Linked DNA regions of Homo sapiens. The protein of the gene in region 1 interacts with the protein of each later gene in a pairwise test. Each region holds a gene or a part of one and is shown on either strand. Other genes may lie near its edges.

Evidence for each region.
Region 2: the proteins of EXOC2 (region 1) and ESX1 interact in a two-hybrid assay, tested with the Homo sapiens proteins (one large-scale study listed by BioGRID and IntAct).

Annotation. Positions count from the first base shown.
Region 1 is NC_000006.12:591,858-595,674, reverse strand, and holds part of EXOC2 (exocyst complex component 2), read left to right. Parts: intron 1-3,087; coding exon 3,088-3,206; intron 3,207-3,817. UniProt on the Homo sapiens protein: Component of the exocyst complex involved in the docking of exocytic vesicles with fusion sites on the plasma membrane.
Region 2 is NC_000023.11:104,252,081-104,256,475, forward strand, and holds the start of ESX1 (homeobox protein ESX1), read right to left. Parts: upstream 2,854-4,395; 5' UTR 2,770-2,853; coding exon 2,688-2,769; intron 2,498-2,687; coding exon 2,074-2,497; intron 749-2,073; coding exon 703-748; intron 1-702. UniProt on the Homo sapiens protein: May coordinately regulate cell cycle progression and transcription during spermatogenesis. Inhibits degradation of polyubiquitinated cyclin A and cyclin B1 and thereby arrests the cell cycle at early M phase. ESXR1-N acts as a transcriptional repressor.

The DNA.
Region 1 (3,817 bases):
ATCTTGTTGAGTGTACAAATTCTTTATGTTGTGGGTTACCATCTATATGGATAACTCATGTGCAGTTTTTATGAGTATATAACTTACTGGATATCGTTTAAAAGGTGGTAGTGCCAAAAAAGATTCTTTTAAGGAGCCTTTTAACTACGATTTTTCCTGTCATCTTAAAGGCAAAAGAGCAAAAATATAAACAAGTCAACAATAGTTTATGTATTTGTTAATGATTATTTTATTTACGATGCTTTGAGAAAATACTGAGCAATTGTTACCTTTTTAAATGAAATTTTTAGTCGCTAAGAAATAGAAAAATAAGATCAGAACCAGGTCAAATACCTGTTGGACTTTGAAATTTATGAGCATCAAGTAGGAATAGAGATAGCTTTATCATGAACAAAAATGTATTAGTTTTCTTACATAATCCAGATTATGCATAGTAGAGGGGAAAATCAGATTACCACTATATTGTCTTACTGTTCACAATTTTTTCTAATATCATTCACTATTTTATCTAATTTAAACCTTCCCTATTCTTCTCCCTCTCCTTATTTCTATCTTGATGTTGGCAGGAAGCAAAGCTCTGCATATTCCTTTCCACAGCAGTGTGATCTTATCCCTGGTAGCTGTGAGAAGATCATGTCAGAATATGACTAAAAACTTCCTTTATTCTTAAATTTTAAAATACTGAGCCTGTGTTAATCATAATTAACATTCTTTACATTGCTTTTGAATCTAAAAAGCCTTTTTAAAGTGTTCTTAATATGCAGTTTTAAAAGAAATGGCGATAACATGTATCATTCTAAACAGAGTTTTGAAATGTAACTACTTATTTTTAGCTGCATACTGAAAGGAAACAAGAAACTTATTTGAAGAGCCCAGCACAAGTTGTCATGCTTTTGAACTGAGTCTAGAATTTCTAAAAGAACAACTTTATCTTGCTTTGTAAAACTTTTATAAACTCCTTTACTTTAATACCCGTTAATAAGATGATAGAAAAAGTCTTTTGTTATTAGGTTTTGCAAGGACACAGTCAACATTTTAAAGAGACGTATAATGTAAAAAGCCACTAAGCAAAGCTTATTGATTCCTCTTGCTGTACTCCTGGAGAAAGAACCCTTGTACGGAACTGTCTACACTCCTATTCAGTAATTTAAACATTAAAAGGAACACCGTCCCTAAAAGAGTATCTCTTTATTTTACTACTAACACCAAATCTGAGGGCTACGTGAGTGAAAGTGTTAGGAGAAAGCGTTGCAGAGGTGTTGGGAGGCAAAACAAGCCTATTTAGGGAGAACGCTGAAATGCATCATCCCCAGCAAGAAAGCATAGAATCACGTTCTTTGGGAAGAAAGACACAGTGTACTATTTGTTATATTTATCGTTCAGGTAATAAAAGAAGAAAGCCTTGTGTGAGAGAAAGAATCAGACTGCATTTTGGAATCTGAAATGAATCCCCTGTGCCAAGCTAAATGTAACTTGTTAGATTGTAGTTTTCTTCTCAGGATACTATTCTCATTTATGAGGAGGAGTGCTGGTGACTTCTTAATCTGAGTAAAGCTCTTCCTTCTAATTGACCTGCCACTTTCTCAGCACAGAGACACATCCTGTTTGCAACCTGTAGGTGGTCACAAGGGGGAGGAGATGGCAGCTCTCAGCCACCTCTGGGCAGCCTGAGTGTGGCCCGTCTGCAGATGCCTGGATATCCGGCTCCCCACAGCACCCAGTCCCTCCCCATCAGCTGGGAATGTCAGTGTTCTCAGCATTTTATTTGTTGCTAACATATTACAAAGTGGATTTGTTTCTCCTCTGATTGGCTGCTGATTGAGATACCTGAGTAACACACACTCACTACTGGAAGAATGGGCTGGAAGCATGGGTGCACCCCTGAGGGATTGAGGTCTGGCCCAAGGTCAGCCTGGAGCCATTGATGATGATTTACCACTGAACAAAAACCTCTAACCCAGAGACAAAGAATGGCATATGGCTTAACAACAGTTTTAAGACAATAAATTCATTTGGACATGCTTTTGGAGTTGATTTAATTGGATTTAGCTTGCTATATTTATATATTTTGTGAGGGCTGAGGGCCAAATCTTAAATAATATTTGACAGAAATTTTTCTATGGAAGTAAATGGTCTCTATGGATTTGGGTGTTTTATAGACAAAGACTTGATATATTTTAAGAATATTTAGAAACTAAGAAAAACACCGAACTATACTATATTTCCTAGAGAAATATTTTCTCAGTCGTGAGTGTGGACTTTAGAGGTGAGTGTTGTCACCAAATCTCTTCACAGTTCGGTTAGCCCTCATTTAGCTAGTTTTAGAAAGCGGTGCCATACTGCCATCTCGTGGCCATATTTCATATCAGAAAGGAATTAAAAAACATCTGAAATTTTAAAAGTATTTGCCCAGTATCTGCTGGCTCCCACCTGTGTCTAATATAATGACTCTGAACTAAGTAGAAAAACTCCTGTGAACTAAATATAAATATAAAGAAAAATGCTCATCAGGTAGATAGGATCACTGCAAATTGTCCTTATCTTTTTACAAAGAGCTGTTTTTAATAGTTTTATCATTTATATGAAAAAATTTTAAAGCTCTGCTGTTTATTTTTTTATTTTTTGTTTGCTTGTTTGTTTGTTTGGAGATGGCGTCTCACTCTGTCGCCCAGGCTGCAGTACAGTGGTGAGATCTCAGCTCATTGCAACCTCTGCCTCTCGGGTTCAAGCGATTCTCCTGCCTCAGCCGCCCGAGTAGCTGAGATTACAGGCTTGCACCAACACACTTGGCTAATTTTTGTATTTTTTTTTAGTAGCGACGGGGTTTCAGCACGTTGGCCAGGCTGGTCTTGAACTGCTGACCTCAGGTGATCCATCCACCTCAGCCTCCCAAAGTGCTGGGATTACAGGCAGGAGCCATCTCACCTAGCCAAGAAATTTGAATATATTTCATTGAGAATTAAATATTAAAGACTAATATTTGACAGGGCACAAGACTAATTGATAAAATTTTAGCCTTTAAAAAGTAATGATTTTAAAATATGCCAGCATTTCCCTTTGGCCTCAACCTTGGACTTGCTTTTTCAGGTACCTGTCTGACCTTCATGCGTCTGGTGACCCTGCTTGGCAATGCATTGGAGCCCAACACAAGTGGATCCTTCAGCTCATGCACAGTTGCAAAGAGGGCTACGTGAAAGATCTGAAAGGCAAGGATTTCTCTTCCAATGTGTTGTGTGATTCCTTCATGTCATTTTGATGCATTCTGGGAATGTTTAATGATGAAGGCACTGACTACCTAATTTACTTGGTATCTCTTATTATTGTCTTTTGCTTGTTTTGTGGTTTTTTTGGCCACTGGTTAGCATTGTACTAATGAAAAGGGACAACTCTTTTATCATGTCTGTTTTTGCGATTGGTGGACAGCGTTGACGTTTCGGGGCAGGCAGCGTGATGCCGAGGAGGTGACATTGGTCTTTGGTAACTATCAGTCTGCACATCGTCTCGTCAGGTGTATGTTGAGTCCTGCTCTGTGCCAGGCACTGCACCCATCGCTAGTAAGACATAGCTGCTGCCTCCCAGAGTTACCGCTAGAGGAAGGAAAAGCCACTAAACATGTAACTAACCAAATAAAATGCTGGGACATGTGATGAAAGAAAAAAAGAAAATCAAGATGTTCCAAAAGGGAGTAACTGAGGAGAATGCTTTAGATGGCTGGTGTGGGAATGTCTCAGAGAAGCCTCCGTATTAGAACTGGAAGGATAAAAGGTAGCTTACTAGCCATCTCAGCTTGAGAAAGGGACCACCTGTGTGGAGGCCC
Region 2 (4,395 bases), on another chromosome or scaffold:
AGCAATGTTTTCAGGCTGACATCAAAATCTTCCCAAAAAATTAAAATTTAGGGCTGCCACTCCCTACTTTAGTACTGTGTTCTGTGTGTGAATTACTCCTTCACTCCAATGCCTAAATATAAATTCACTCATTTAGCTAAGTGCTTGTGCTAGGTTTTAAATATTTTAAATAATTTAGTACAGTGAACCTTCTTATAAAACTGAGCTATTCTGTGCATTAATTTGAATACTTCCGAGGTGAGACTGAGCCCCGAACATGACTCCATATAGAAGTAATCCTTTAGGGAAAACTAACATTCTCCCTAGAGGATACCAGTGTTAGAAGAAGGTTAATCTTATTTATTGGGATATATGTATGTATGTATGTGTATACATGTGCATATATGTGTACGTAAATGTGTATATGTACATATACATGTGCATACACTATATGGAGAGAAAGACAGATACAGATATAGAAGGAAGATGAAAACACATCTTTTTTTCCTTTAGGAAATCATATTTCCTCTGTTTATGAGCAATTTCCATAATCTGAAGTTTACACATCCTATTTTCTACCACTAAAGCCCCTACTGTTCAAAACTTATTTGTCAACCATGGAAAAGACAACAGAAAACACCAGCTTGAGAATGTCCAGGACAAAACCTAAAGCATGCTTTAGAATGGCTGTCCTGCCAAATTGCTTTTTCAAGATTTACTGACCTGCACTCTGTCTTCAGTCAAATTCAGGCGTGCTGCAAGTCTCTCTCTTAGGGGAGAAAATTACAAATATTCAGTATTTGGAGTTGTGGATAAAATGCAATAATATGAACGTGGCTCGGCTCAGCACTTTGGGAGGCCGAAGAGGTTGCTGAGGTCAGGAGTTGGAGACAAGCCTGGCCAGCATGGTGAAACCCTGTCTCTACTAAAAATACAAAAATTAGCCGGGCATGGTGGCACATGCCTGTAATCCCAGCTACTCGGGAGGCTGAGGCAGGAAAATCGTTTGAACCCGGGAGGTGGAGGCTGCAGCGAGAAGAGATCGCGCCACCGCTCTCCAGCCTGGGCGACAGAGTGAGTCTCAAAAAAAAAACATATATATATATATATATGAATGTACATTATTTCTCTCCCCCACCTCCCAGTGCAGTTTTCTGTAATACGGTTGGGACTCGCTTTAGGGAGGTTTTTCCCATTAACAACTTCGCTGTTAAATAAGATAGAAAAAGGAAACATATGTAAAAGCGCCCGATGGTTTGTTAGCTGAATATGACTCAATTCTTCTGTTTGTGAAACAGCAGAGAACAACCCTGGAAATCTTTCCTTGGGAAGTCCGTCCGTGAAAAAAAAAACAAAAAAAAATTAAATGCCAAAACACCTTTAAAGCGCTGTATTGAACCACAGTATTTCTGTTTATCGTAAAAAGGAGAGGTGAACTCTCAGGGAGGGAACTCCAAACCACATCGGCCAAGCGCGCCCTAGGGAAATTCTTTTTTGCTCTTTGCCGGGCGAAGGCTAAGTACAACGAAGCCAGAAAGGTCCCCTTAACCCTACTCTGACCTGTCCAGGTGCCCCCCGCCCCCCATTCCAGCCTGGCCAGAAAAGGCCTGCCCCTTCGTACACTACGGGTCGGTATGAGGAGGGCTCCGATGAGGCTAGCGAAGGAAAGGGGTCGCTGGCTACCGAAAGCTCAAAAGTCCGCCCCCTGGTTGTAAAAGTGCGCTCCACGTGGCAGGGCGGTTACTAGGGCGAAAAGAGTGAGGCGCTCGCCACGCGCGCACAATGTAAATGGCGCTAAAAAACTCGATAATCAAGACAAATAATATTTTAATGCAATATTAAAACGTATCAAAATTAATGCAAAAACAACCCATGGTGAGCAAATTGCCAAAATTTTAAATAAAGGCGGGATCCCACCCTGCCTCACTCGCTTTACCCTAGTCCCGCCCCAGTCTTTTACATCCTCCGCGCCCCGCCCACCACGTCCCCCAAAAACCAAGGGCGGAGGCAGCGCCCGTGAGCCCCCTACGTGGCTTTTAGCTCCGGTGAAAGGGTCCCGGGATGAACTGGGCGCCTCCGGGGCAAGCCACTTACCGCGCCACAACGTCGGGATATTGAGATTCATCGAAAAAGTTCTCTAGCTCCTGCAGCTGAAACTGCGTGAACGCGGTGCGGCGGCGGCGTTTCCTCTCTGGGGGCTGTGGTCCCTCAGCGGTTTGTGGCCCCTCCGCCGGCTGTGGCCCCTCCACGGTCGTCTGGGGCGGCTCCTCCTGCTCTTGCTTCAGCTCGAGCAGGGGCGGCTCCTCCTGCTGTTGCTCCGGCTTGGTCAGGGGCGGCTCCTCCTGCTGTTGCTCCGGCTCGTGGCCGCCGCCACCCTCACGGTCTTGGTCGTCCGAGGGGACGGACCCTTCCGTGCCAACGTTGTTTTCCGCTTCTGTTCCGTACTCAGGTTTGGACCGTGTATTCTCCTCGTCCTCTCCTCCCCTTGCCATCAGCGAGGTCACGGTAAGTTTCTCATCTGGGAAGGGAGGAAAGCAAAAGAGACACCAGGGCGTTGGAGCCCACGGCGCGTGGGCTGGAGGAGGCAGGGGACCCGCTATGGAAGAGCAACTGCGACAGCCGCGCAGCGTCTCCTCCGCTTGCCTCTCCCAGGGAAAAATTCCTCTTTTGGAGTTCGCGAAAGCTCCCGTCCCTGTCCAAGCACTAACCATTCACTTCCTCGATGTCCTCGCCGACTGCCAGGCTGCGGTAGCCAATATCACTGTGGGTGTACCCGCGAAGAGACTCCATGCTTCAAGCGCTGTCGATAAAGCTGTGCACTTCTGCAGACTCTGTGCGTGGTTCCGCGGCGATCCCGGGGTTGGAACTGGCTCTGGGACCAATGGCTCGGGCGAGCGCTTTTCTGGCGCCGGGACCTCTTTCTGGCGCCGTCTGGCACTTGCGCGCCCTATATAGCGGTACGGTGCCTTCCGCAGGTTCAAAGCGTATGCACACGCGTCGGTTAAACGCCCCCTATTAGCATTCACAGTACATCTAGTTGTGAGTGCGACCCCCGGGGGACGCATTCGTGTCCAGGGCGTACGAAAAATAGGGCGAGCGTGCGCAAGCATGGTGCAGGTAGTGAACATGCTTTGCGGGGAACAGTGGCCCCAAATTGCTGCTTAACTAACTACTCCCAACTTGAGCAGAGACCCAGATTGGAAAAAGCGGCTGGGTTGTGAAAGCCGATTTGGGGGCGAGGAGACGAGGGGGCGAGGGGGCGAGGGGGCGAGGGGGCGGGGTGAGACCTCGCACCAGCCCGTGGAGAGGTATTTTGGCAGTGTTCCTCCGCCCAACCGTCTTTACCCCGCAGCACTTGGGTGGAGCGATGCCCTTTGCTTCCCCCACGGAAAAGACCGAGAGATGGCGTTGAGGAAAGCGCGGAAAGTTCAGCAGCCCAAACATGCGAAAGTGAACTTGTTAGTCTACCATGCAATTGGGTTCTGAGCACGACTCTCCCCTGCTAGAAATTAGTGACAAATGGATAGGACTATCTAGTTCTGTACAGTTCGCGCCAAAGTCAGGATAGTGATAAGGTGCAATGATTGGCTAGAAGGCTGCTTGCTCTGGATTTTTGAATTCAGAACCCACCGTGCATTCCGGGAGCGGGAATTTGGGGCTGAATTTGAAGAGCAGTCCGCTGCTCAGGTGCACGCTGCAAGAAACCCAACGTGCTTTTTGAGAAAGCTCCAAGGACTTAAGCTTTTTAGTAATGAACTTATGTCAGAGTGCAAGTATAGAAATCTGCTAAGTGCATAGTGCATCCAAGAATGCTTACACTACGGGGGCCCCGTCTTTTGATGCGCGGCACTTGAAACGTCTGCTGTACTAGGTTCCTGCGCTTCTTATTGCAGCGCGCTTTGCAGAAGCCCGTTCTGCAGGCTCCTAAAGCGCGCGTATTCCCCGGGTTTGTGCTGTGGACCTGGGAGAGTTCCCGCCTTCCCCACTACCCCTTCTTCCTCCTCCCCCTCCCTTTTTCTAGAACTATCTTCCTGAATTCTTGCTCCATAGTGATGTATCACATTAAAAGTCCTGGGCTATGATTGAAGGCTGTATGGTTCTCCCTCCAATAAGTGTTTGCAGGTTCTCCAGGACGTGTTAATATCCGTAATATTATAAAAATAACTCTGTAGACTTAGTTACTAGGGAGGCTGAGGTGGGAGGATCGCTTGAGTCCGGGAGGTCAAGGCTGCAGTGAGCCATGATCAGGATACTGCACTCCAGCCTGGACGACAGTAGACCCTGTCTCAAAAAATAAAAAAATTAAAAAAATTTTTAAAAGCCTGCTAATAATTGGCCCTATGCTTGCCACTGTACACGATTTATCTTACTTTCGCCTTGATAACCACCATTATCATCCCCCCCCCTTTTTTTTTT